Linked DNA regions of Homo sapiens: region 1 is linked to region 2. A link means that fine-mapping ties the variant in region 2 to the expression of a gene that starts in the linked region. Tissue or cell type: blood mononuclear cells. Region 2 holds a variant in brackets; the other region holds the start of a gene. All regions are shown on one strand. Distances are from middle to middle.

Region 1 (5,965 bases), 29 kb after region 2:
CAGGCACATGCCCAGAAAGACGTCGTCGATCGGGTAGAGCTCCAGGGTGTCGCAGGCATGGTGCAGGCGCCGGGCCAGGCTGCCGGCCATGAGGAAGCCACCGCCGCCTGCATACGGCGGATAGCTGGCCTTGCCGTACAGGGCCCCCGGGATGTAGTATTTGTTGTCTTTCCTGCGAATGGGCCGAGCGTGCTGCAGGACATCGCCCACGAACAGGTTTTCCTGTGGCTGCCGGTCAGCCAGAAATTCTAGCAGGTTGGTGGGGTTGACGAAGACGTCATCGTCGCCTTTGAAAATGAAGGGGACGTGGGGGCAGTAGATGTCCAGCCACTTGAGGAAGTGGATCTCCTTGAGGGTCAGGTTGAAGAAGGTGTCGAGAAAGCCCCACTGCAGGATGTCGCCGTAGAGGCGGTCTTCGTAGGCCAGCAGCTGCTGGTAGTGCGTGCGCTCCTCCTGCTTGGAGGCCGTGCCCAGCAGGAAGAGGGTGCGCACGGCGCCTCGGCCCCCACCCGCGGACTGCCGCTCGCGGCCCCAGGTCTGGCGGATGGCCTCGCGGCGGTCGTGCTGCGTGATGACCGACTTGACAACCACCAGCAGGTAGACATCGCCCCTGCACTTCTCCGGGTGGTTCAGCAGCATGGGGAAGTAGCGGCAGTGGCGGTAGAAGAGAAACTGCCGGAACTGCGGCTCCAGGACCTGGAACCAGGGCTGGTGGGTCAAGTTGATATTGGCTGAGCAGTTAGTGGTGGTCACGTCCCAGGCCTGGGGCCCCTGAGAGGCCATGGGCGTGGGCGCAGCCACATCTTTCGGGTTCTTCCAGAAGTTGTTGGGGTTCACCAGCTGTCCATTTGGCTTCTGGGCCTTCTGTGGCTCCAGGGTGGGTGGCGGAGGCTCCTGCAGAAACTGACCAGGGGTGAGACTGCGTTGGAACACCGTCACGGCCACGAGCAGGGCCAGGGCCAGGCACAGACTCCGGTAGACGGTTTTCTTCCTGTGGGGGAGAGCGGACAGTACAGAGGAGAGAGAAAAGATGAGCCCAGGGCTCTCCTGGCGCCCCCCTTGGGAGGCTGGGTGGTCCCAGACGGGCAAGTGGACCTGGGCACAGGCTCAGTCCCGGAGTCCCTAAGCTGTCAGGGTAGGGTCCCGCTTCCTCTCCCACCCTGCCCTTTCTTTCTCCCACCCTGCCCTCTCCTCAAGGAGCACTGTGGAATCAGGCCCTGACGCTTACAAGCTGAATGAGTGGTTTACAACCACTCTGAGCCACGATTTCTTCTTCCCCCAAATGGGGCTAAAACACAGGATTGGAGTGCTATATAAAGTACCAGGCAGCGGGTGCACAGTTAGGGGAATGCTGTCACCTTAACAGGAGGGCCTCAGGTGGAAACCTCTGCCCTGTTCCCCACGCCTGGAACCCCAATGCCTTTCATTTCCCTGCGGTGTACCTACCCACAGCAGTAGGTATCGGTATCATTAGGTGACTCAGAGCCAGAGTCATTGAGAGGGCACCCTCTGATCCTCTGTGCCGCCCGGGAGCTCCATCACATGTGGGGCACATTGGAGAGTGGCTCGAGCTTGGGACCTGAGGAAGACTGGCCCTCCTCCCCCTTCTCCAGTCTGTCTCACCCAACAAAGAGCAGCCCTCATGGTTGATGGAGGCCCAAGGATGCAGTGAGCACCTCTAGCATGGCACTGCCCCTCACCCCTACCTTAACATCCCCAGCTCATAACACCCCATTAGAAGACATGAGGCTACAGCTCTACTCCCTGGGAGGGGGCACATTTGCAGCTCCAGCCCTTGAGGGACCCTTCTTGCCCAGAGACCCCCCCACCCCAACCCCGGTCCACACCCATTTCGGAAGCAGAAATTAGAGCTCTCTGCCAGGAGTGCTGGTCGTCCCAAGCCCTGGGGCCTGAGCCCCTGTCCTGAAGGACCTCCTCTCTTCATCTCACCCTCCGGGGGCTGCCAGGACACCTGCCCCACCCTCCCCAGTGGAGACCTGGGGGCTGAGAGCTCTGGGGACAGCAGAGTGGCCTTCCAGGGCCAGCCTAGCAGAGAGATGGCGCTGACCTCCAAGGGGGAGGAGCAGGGTGCCAGGAGAGACAGGCAGCCCGTGGAGACGCCTGGGTTGCCCTGAGGGCTGGTCCGGTTGCAGGTCCAGGCCCCAGGGTGAATGCAGGCTGAGCCCCATAGAGCGACATTTTCCCCATAGGGTCCCCAGGTTGCTGGGGCATGTGGTTGGAGGAAGACAGGGGCACCTTAGGTGCAGGCTGGGGGGTGTGACCCAAGGTCCAGCTCTCCGGGGAGGAAACGGAGGGCTCCGGATCCGGCCCTGCCAGCCCTAGGGGTTCCAGGGAAGCCGCCCACCGAGGCCGGGACGGGGGAGGTCGGGGGGTGCACCGGGAAGGCGGCGAGGCCCTGGGCTGCGGGCGCTCCACCTGCCGGGTCCGCTCCATTCGTAGGGAAAGCCCGGGAGGGGCGGAGAGGGGCCGGGCGGGCGGCGGTCCGAGGTCCCGCGGAAGGAAGCCCCGAGAGGAGGAGAGTGGCCCGGACGCAGGGGGCCCTCAGGGGTCTGGAAGGGAGAGGGGACCCAGCTGCCGGCAAGACCTGGGGTCCCAGCCGCCAGGGTCCTGGAGCGGTGTCCAGGGCCGCGGGGCCGGGGAGCTGAGCGCGGCGCCCCGAGACCCCTCGACGTCCCCCACGGGTCCGGGGCCGCGTACCGCGAACATCTCCCGCCGCCGCCGCCGCGCCCGCCCGCCCATCCGCCCCCGGGAAACTGAGGCCGGCGCGGCGCGCGCGGGGGCATCTCCTATCCCGGGAGTCCCGGCGCCCGTCTGTGGCCACGGAGGAGGGGGAGCCCCGGGCCCACGCCCCCGCCCAGGCCCCCGACGGCCCCCAGCCCCACTCACCACAGCGACATGGCGGCCCGGGCCGGAGCGGCGGAGGGGCGAGCGGCTCGCAGCTCTGGGCGCCACGGCTCGGGCCGGCGGGACGGCGGGCGGGTGGGGACGGAGACCGGGCCGCGCCCCCGCCGCGACTTTCCTCTTCCCGGCCGCGGGAGGAGGGGCCGGCAGGGGCGGTGGCCCAGGTGCCTTAACCCCTTCGGCGCCCAGGGCCCGCCCCGCCGCCGCCTGGCGGGGACCACCCCATTTCTCCGAGACGGCCCCTAGGCTCCCCAAGCGCGCCTAGTAGACAGTGCATGGCCGAGGCGGGGCTTCGGAACCCACGGGGGTCACCTCCAATCCCGGGGACGCCTGTCCCTGGCGGAGCCTCCCGGGGCGGGGGGAGGGCGGTCGCCGGTCCCTCCTGTACTTGTGCGAAACCTGAACACCCGGTCCCCTCCAAGACCCTGGGGCACCCCAAGGCCCAGCCATTTCCCTCTGGCCCCATTCGGACTTGTCTTTGGGGCCAGAGGCAGACAGGGTGTCCTTTTCTCCCTCTGCTACCTTCTGCCCCTGCACCTTTCCCCTGACCAGACGGACCCCTTGCCCAGCTGTTGGGCTACCTAGGGCCAGGAGCAAAGCCAGCCACTAGGGAAAGAGGCCGTATGAGACTGGGCTCCATGTCAGGACTCGCCCAGGCCTGTGGCTCTGGAAGCTTTTTTTGTGCCCCCACCATGTCCCTCTCTTCACCTCTGGGGTTCCTCCCACCTCTGAGGGCTCCCCACCACCAAGGGAAGGCCTGTTGGCCCAGCCCTATCTCCTTTCTTTTTTCACTTATCACTCAAAACCCTTTTTGTCCTCAAGCCTTTATTAGTCTGCTTGTGCACATCAGGCCTAGCGGCTCTGGGGAGTGGGCTGACAGAGAACACGGAGAGGGCTTGGTCCAGCCAGGTGACTTCCAGAATCCTCCAGCAGGGAGAGCCATCGCTGGTCCTGTTGTTGCTCAGGTTGTTCTGGTCTTGTTCCGGGTTGAGGTTTCGGTGCTTAGCATCCAGCAGGACCTCCAAAAGGCCCACAGAATTGAAACGGAAGCACGTTGTGGTCCAATCATAACAGCTAACGTCCACTGAGCAGCTACAATATGCCAAACCTGGTTCTCGGCCCATGCATGACTGGCTCACTTAATCCTAGAGACATACGCTATTATTCCCACCTTACAGGGGAGGAAACGGGGGTGCAGAGGGGAACTCCCAGCCAGCTCAGAGAACAGCGAGCCCAGAGTTAGTAAGCACATCCAGGAGGCCTGCATGGCCTGAAGGCTGGCTCTGAACCCTTCCTGCCTGGTCTGAAGGCTGGCTCTGAGCCCTTCCTCAACCTTTTTTCCTTTCCCAGGGACAGCAGTGACATGGAGCTACTTTCCTGCCCAGCACACAGGGAGGCTAGGAGTCCTCAGCTGGATCTTAAGCCCTCGAGGCCAGGGTGAGGAGCCCCTTCTGCCCTATCCTTAAGGTTCAAGGGCCCTTTGGAGGGGGAGGAGAAACTTAAGGTACCATAGAATGTTCTGGAATGTTGTAAGTGCCAATTAGGGAATGTGAAGGGCCTTTCAGGCAGAATTTCAGAGGAGTATCTTGGGGCTGATGTCCTTTGTAATGGCCCTCCAAAAGTTCCAGAGCAGGGGAGGGGCTGACCTGCAGCCCAAAGCCCCTGTTGGCCTGGCTGCCTGCCACTGAGGGCCACCCGCAGATTCTGCAGCTCCACGGCTCCCTTCATCCCAGTGTAGCCTTGGCCACCGGTTCCCGCAGGGCACCAAGCATTTTGCTCCACTGCCCAGCCTTCCGAGTTCCCCACTTCACCCTGCAAGTGTGGCCCTGGCTTCCCTGGCTCCACACAGGTGCCCTGCTGAGAGCTGCCTCCCTGGCTTCAGCACTGACCTCTCACCCGGTGCTGTGGGGTCTCCTCCTCCTGCTGAGGGGTGGACACAGCCGTCCCTGGGAAGGGGGTTTTGAGCCCATGTTTGGGGATGGCAGGCATGGGCGTTGGGTCAGAGTCTTGCACTTCCTGGTTGTCACTGGGGGCAGGTGGCTTTTCCCCTTGAGACCTCAATTTCCTGCCAGCTCAGGGCCTTGTGAGATGACGCCAATGAAGCACAGACATAGGCATCCCCTATGTAAAGAACTTGGTGGCAGGCCGGCTACTGTTAGTGTTATCATTGATGTCCAGCTACTCCACAAAGCCCCAGAAGCACAAGGGCCAGAGGAGGTGGGAGCAGAGGGAGCTGCCCAAGGTCAGCGGAGTGTTTGCCAGTGGAATCTGGTCAGTTGAGACAGGCAGTTTGTCATCATGGAATCATTTGATCTGTGCCTAGTTTGAATTCAGAGAGGGGAAATGAATGACAATTAAATGCGAGTCCCTGATGGTGGGGTGGGGGTGGGGAGTGTGGAGCCGGGCCAGGCTCGGGTCAGCCTCCCCTGTTACTCCAATGTGCTCCCCTGTGGGGCAGCTGGGCCAGTCCCTATGGCAAGCACAGTGGTCCCCCCACCGCCAATCTGGCCAGTTCCACCTGCCCCAGCCAGAGGGCAGAGCCCCAGCAGATTCCTGTGGATTTAAGCGAGGCCCTGAGGAAGGCAGGCCTGTCTGCGATGGGATCTGCCTACCTGCTGTCCCCAACCCTGGCTGAAGGCAGAGCCCAGAGGTAGAGGGAAGTTCCAGAGTGGCAGATACCAGGAGAAGAGGGTGGGTGACGGATGAGCTGGCTGCATAGGCTGCAGGAGTCCCAAGCCAAGGTGGAGGTGGGTTCTGTGTCCTTGTCACAAGGCCACTCTGTGCACCTCAGGTTGCTCCCTTGGAGGGGGAAGCTCGTGAGCCAGGACGTTGGAGGACCCCAAGAAATGCCCCCTTCCCCAGTACATCTTTTGGCCCCTCAGCCCATCCCTACCTCCACCTCCACTTTCTTTTATATCCCACCCCTTCAACCTTCCAGAATAGGTTGGAATCCGACCCTGCTGGTAACCCCAGCACAGGCCTTTGCCCAGAGGCGAGGGCTGCAGAGACCCAAGGGTGGGAGTATCTGACTGGCCAGAAAACA
Region 2 (5,965 bases):
CAGAAACAAACATAAAAAAAGGTTATGCGTTGGTCGACTGAGGAAAATATTGTGACTAGGCCGGGCATGGTGGCTCAAGCCTGTAATTCCAGCACTTTGGGAGGCCGAGGTGAGCGGATCACTTGAGGCCAGGAGTTTGAGACCAGCCTGGTCAACATGGTGAAACCCCATCTCTACTAAAAATAAAAAAAATTAGCCAGGCGTGGTGGCACACACCTGTAATCACAGCTACTTGGGAGGCTGAGGCACGAGAATCACTTGAATCCAGGCAGTGGAGGTTGCAGTTTGCTGAGAATGCACCACACACCACTGCACTCCAGCCTGGGCAATAGAGTGAGACTCGGTCCAAAAAAAAAAAAAGAAAGAAAGAAAATACTGTGACCAGACCCTCACAGGTACCTAAGGAGGAACCTAATTTCTCCCAGGAGCAAAGCTTCAACATTCACTAATCCAGTGTTTGTGGTGATTTTATAGAACATAACCACCACGAATCAGGAGCATGGGCTGTACCTCCTGCTGGTTGTGTTTCTCTGGTTGCGATCTGACTGATATAGTGACAAAGTCACAGAACTGCTAATACTATTGTGGTTTTTTGCCACTACCTTAACAAATTTTGAAGAAAAGTTAAGGGTTGGTGAAAACAAAGATGTCTATTTATTCCCATCCATGCATATGAGTCCCCTGAATGCTCTCTGTGGACCCTGTGGGCATTCGTGGACCCCAGGTTAAGACCACCTGCAGGTTAACAGAGGATAATGCAAAGGCCCACACCAATCATGGTGAAGGGTGGAGGTAGCAATGTTCCCACAGGCTCTGAGGAAGCAGTGAAGCTGGAAGGCCCCACCGGGGAACTGGAGGCTGAGGGCTCAGCAGGCCTGTGGGCTCTGCTCCCCAGCTGAAGACACGGTACCCCTAGTTCTTCCTTAAGCTGTGGTTGCCCCAAGCTAGATCCATCCGAAAAAACCATGGCTGCCTACGGGTGTTGAGGAAGCGTTGTTTGCAAGGGCTGGGGTTTGCCCCAGTGGCTCTGAGGCCTCTCCCTCTCCTTGCACTAAACTCAGACAATTCTGTTCTTCTCCTATTATTCTACCTGTGATTTTAAGTGCTCCTCGTATCTGCACAAACTTACCCCCATCTCTTTTTATTGAAAAAGCAAACAGATCCCCTGATTCTTTGGGTCTGGGATGATACTTTGGCTGACTATCTGTGCCCTCCACCCACTACACCCTCCCAGAAAATGAAATTAATCTACTTAGGTTCATCACAAAGGTGGGCTGGTCGACCCAGTGGCAGACCGTCCCGCCCATGTCACCATACCAAGCGCCCTTCTGCTTCAGGTCCTGGGAGGTCAGGACTTCCTGGTGTCATCCTCAGACGGCGGGACAAGGCTGGGGCTGGATTCTTCCTGTCTGGGTTCACCTCCAATTGCTGGTGCTTCCTTAAGCACAGCACTATTGCCCCCATGTTTATGAACGGGAAAGGATACTAATTAGAACCAGCCAAAGGAAGAGACACAGGGTAGAGTCCAGGGAGGGTCCTGATGAGGAGCTGGCAGCCACCGGTGTGGCATCACCTCCTTCTTGCTGTGATGTGTGACAATTCGCAGAGTACCGCCAACGGGTGTGGCATCACCTCCTCCTTGCTGTGATGTATGACAATTCGCAGAGTACCGCCAACCACGGAAGCTTCCCCGGGCTTTGATGTCAGAATTTGTGTTGCAGTTTCCCTCTGTGGGCAGGGTGATGGAATCATTGCCTGTGAGGTTGAACTGGGTCTCTAGCTTGTTTCTTCGCCCCGGGGGTTGCTCTGACAGCTCTCGCCCTCAGGGGCCCATCATGAGTCACCTCATTAGGGTAACGGTAAACCATCAGGTGTGGTCTTCCAGGAGCCAGGACAAAGGCACAAAGGCCAGATCTCTCTGGGGAGAGGGAGCGTGTGAATTGCTTAGTACACAGCTCCTGACTTTAGCCTCCTGCCCCTCAGGCTGGTGCTTCCCCAGCTCTGACTACACATTCTGCTTTGTGAGTGATTTTACGAGTCTCACCTGGCCTGGAACTGGCAATGGGGAAATTGCTGAGGCAGGTGGCTGGCTCCAGGGCCTGGCTTGAAGATGGGCAGGAAGGCACTTACACTGCCCTCTCATGAGCCCCCCGGTACCCCCTTACAGCCCCAGACCCCAGTGATGTTCAGGCTTTTGGAGCAAGCCCTGTTGCTTTCTGCAACCTCTGTGGGTGGACTCGGACTCCTGACTGGTCACTTGCGGAAGAGAAGACCAGCGGCTCCTCTCCCTCTCGCAGGAGACTGAAGGCTGCCACCTCTGAGACCTCCTACCCTTTGGCTCCCCTTCTGGGAACCATGTGAAAGTGGCTGTCATGAGCCACATCCTGTCCAGCTGAAGTCCTGCTTGATGTTGGCAGAGGATGTGGTCGTTCAGAGCTGGGAGGACAGACCAGACACCAAGCAAGACCAAGAACTCTCCACTATTTCTGACTCTGGATGAGCGGGGTGCAGGGTCTTGAGGAGTAACTGGGGAACGGGACTGCAGAGACTACAATTCCCTCAGGGAATGTGGCTGTGGGATGAGAGTAGGGACACAGCTGAAGAGGTTCATGGGGTTGAAGGAGTTTCTTGTTTTTGTTTGTTTTCAACACGTAAAAGTCTTGAGCCCATTTAAAAGGCCATGGAGCTAGGCGCGGTGGCTCAGGCCTGCAATCCCAGCACTTTGGGGGGCTGAGGTGGGCGGGTCACATAAGGTCAGGAGTTCGAGGCCAGCATGGTGAAACCCTGTCTCTACTAAAAATACAAAAATTAGCTGGGCGTGTTGGCAGGTGCCTGTAATCTCAGCTACTTGGGAGGCTGAGGTGTGAGAATCGCTTGAACCTGGGAGGCAAAGGTTGCAGTGAGCCGAGATGGCACCACTGCACTCCAGCCTGGGCAACAGAATGAGACCCCGTCTCAAAAAAAAAAAAAAAAAAGAAAAGAAAAGAAAAGAAAAGGCTATGGAGAAGGATTAGTGGAGCAATGGATGTTGACCACAGAAGAGAGACAGTGGTCCTAAGCGCTTGGGAAGGGTGGGCTCTGAGACTCAGGTGGAGGCAAGCAGGGGATGGGTCTTTTGTTTTTAAACTGGAGGTGCTCTTCCCACGAGTCCTTCCACGTGCTCTTTGAATTAAAAGGCAAGGTCATCTGATGAAAAGAGGGGAGATGTCAGAGTCAGAGGTTTGAGAAGTGCAGAGGTCTCAAATGTGCCCAGGAAACATGGAATTAGACCCAAGTCCACACGATAATTCAGTACGTAATAAATCTGCCACTTCCACTGGTGTTGGCGTAACTGGAATACCATCTGCCTAGAGGAAAAATTATATTAATATCTTTTTTTTTTGAGACAGGGTCTCACTCTGTCACCCAGGCTGGAGTGCAGTGGTGTGATCATGGCTCACTGCTC[C/T]CAGGTTCAGGTGATACTCCTGTCAGTCTCCTGAGTAGCTAGGACCACAGGCACACACCACCACTCCTGGCTAATATTTTTAGACTATTATTTGTAGAAATGGGGTGTCACTATGTTGCTCAGGCTGATCTTGTGCTCCTGGAATCAAGTGATCATCCTGCCTTGGCCTCCAAAAGTGCTGAGATTACAGGCATGAGCCACCACGCCCAGCAATACCTCATGTCTTATATTAAAATACATTTCAGGTGGATCAAATATGTTAATGTAAAAAGTGAAATATGACAGTACTAGAAGAAAATATGGAAAATTTATTTTATAACTTAAAGTTGGAAAGAGCTTTTTAAATTTAATTTTTATTTATTTATTTTTTCCAAGACAGAGTCTTGCTCTGTTGCCCAGAGCTGGAGTGCAATGGCGCGATCTCGGCTCACTGCAACCTCCGCCCCCCAGGATCAAGCAATTCTCCTGCCTCAGCCTCCCTAGTAGCTGGGATTACAGGCATGCGCCACCAGGCCCGGCTGATTTTTGTATTTTTAGTAGAGACGGGGTTTCATCATGCTGGCCAGGCTGGTCTCAAACTCCTGACCTCGTGACCCACCCGCCTCGGCCTCCCAAATTGCTGGGATTACGGGTGTGAGCCACCACGTCCAGTCTTGTTTTTAATTTTTAAATTTTCAGTGCTTTTTGGGTAGGAGAGGACTTTCTAAGAATAACGACATAGTACCTAGAAGCCATTAAGGAAAAGATGGAAAATTTACATTAAAATATCACTGTATCACAGAAAAATTATGAACAAAGTCAAAAGATAGATGACAAATGGAAAAATATTTTCAGTGCATATCAGATAAATGTCTTTAATGAACCCCTTCAACAAATAAGTAAAAGTCAATCCCATTTTAGTAGGTGTCGCAATGGAAAAAAAGACAAAGACAAAGACAAATAAGCCAATAGAAAAATAGGCAAAGGATATGAACCAACCGCGAAGCAGGCTCACCGTGCGCGGCTTACCAACTTGTCGGCATCTGGTGAGACGGAACACACTCACATGTACCCAGTTACACGATGAGGATTTATTACAGATTGGCAGCAAGGGGCAACAGAGGCCTAGGATTCATTCAGAGCCAGTTCCCCAGGCTCAGGCCAGCTGCCCAGGGCTGATGGAATCTTGACTTCATGCGTCCCACCTGCACCATGGCTGAAGAACCCTGAAAAGCAGCCTGCCCTGAGCTTTATGCTCTGTGAGTGGCTGAGCTACAGTGTTGAAGGACACCCTGTTTCTTTTCTTTTTTTTTTTTTTGAGACAGAGTCTCGCTCTTGTTGCCCAGGCTGGAGTACAGTGGTGCGATCTTGGCTCACCGCAACCTCCACCTCCCGGGTTTAAGCAATTCTTCTGCCTCAGCCTCCCGAGTAGCTGGGATTACAGGTGCCTGCCACCATGCCTGGCTAATTTTTTGTATTTTTGGTAGAGACGGGGTTTCACCATGTTGGCCAGGCTAGTCTTGAACTCCTGACCTCAGGTGATCTGCCTGCCTTGGCCTCCCAAAGTGCTGGGATTACAGGCATGAGCCACCCTGTTTCTAAGGCGGAACTGGAACAGAGCCTGAGCAGTTCTGGCCAGCTCCCCCTTATCTCAAGATGTTGCATTTCTAGCACATTCTACAGTTAATTTTCAGAACTACAAGCAAGAAAGATGGGAGAACCGGGCTGGTTTAAGGTCACCTAGAAAATTGTCCTGTACAAATCTTTCTCAGGAAAGGAAATATGAATGATTCAAACACATGAAAAGATGTTAATGTCACTCAGAGTAGGAGAAATGCAAATTAAAACAACACTATGTGCATTTTCTTACCTGTTAGATTGGTGATGATCACCAGGTTTGCTGACACATTTCATGTACCTGCTGTTTGGGACAATTGCCAGGGAGGGTGAGTTGGGAATAGCTAGTTATCTGTTATGGACTGAGTTGCATCCCCTCAAAATTCACACGCTGAAGTCCTAACCTCCAGTACCTCAGAATGTGACTGTATTTGGAGACAGGGTCTTTAAAGAGGGAATTAAGTTAAAATGAGATTGTTAGGGTGGGGCCCTAATCCAATATGACAGATGTCTTTATAAGAAGAGGAAATTTGGACACATACACCCATAGAGTGAAACTAACTCTGCCAACATCTTAATCTCAGACTTCAGCCTCAGACTGTGAGGAAATAAATTTTCCGTTGTTTAAGCCACCCAGTCTGTGGTTCTCTGTTATGGCAGCCCTAGCAAACTAATACACCAGCAACCTTGAAACTGACCTGAAAATTTGACTTCTAGTAACTTATACTACAGATAGACTGGCATGTGTTCCTGGCATGTGCAGGATATGCGAGGGTATTGTTTGTAGCAGTCAGGGTTCAATCAAGAAAACAGAAGCCACTCTAGGTATTTTGAGCAGAAAGAGAAGCATTGGAAGGGCTGGGAGAGGAAAGGCCAGGAAAGTTCTAGAAGTTAGGAGATGGCAGGGAAGTCATCACCAGTGAT

Evidence for each region. PIP is the estimated chance that this variant, and not a neighbour inherited with it, causes the effect.
Region 1: B3GNT7 starts here. The variant in region 2 is fine-mapped to the expression of B3GNT7 in blood mononuclear cells (TOPMed, PIP 0.97). The same link has a PIP of 0.9 or more in whole blood.

What each region holds. Positions count from the first base shown.
Region 1 is chr2:231,392,757-231,398,721 of GRCh38, reverse strand. It overlaps B3GNT7 (UDP-GlcNAc:betaGal beta-1,3-N-acetylglucosaminyltransferase 7), which reads right to left and starts at 3,012. Exons shown (of 2, transcript NM_145236.3): 1 at 2,908-3,012; 2 at 1-991. The coding sequence starts at 2,918. RefSeq lists enhancers at 1,401-1,470, 413-1,612, 3,881-3,930, 4,226-4,807, 4,808-5,390 and 1 more and a silencer at 2,861-3,330.
Region 2 is chr2:231,421,897-231,427,861 of GRCh38, reverse strand. No RefSeq gene overlaps it. Among named protein-coding and RNA genes, the nearest start is that of B3GNT7, 29 kb to the right of the region's middle. The variant C/T (reference allele first, on the strand shown) is at 3,446.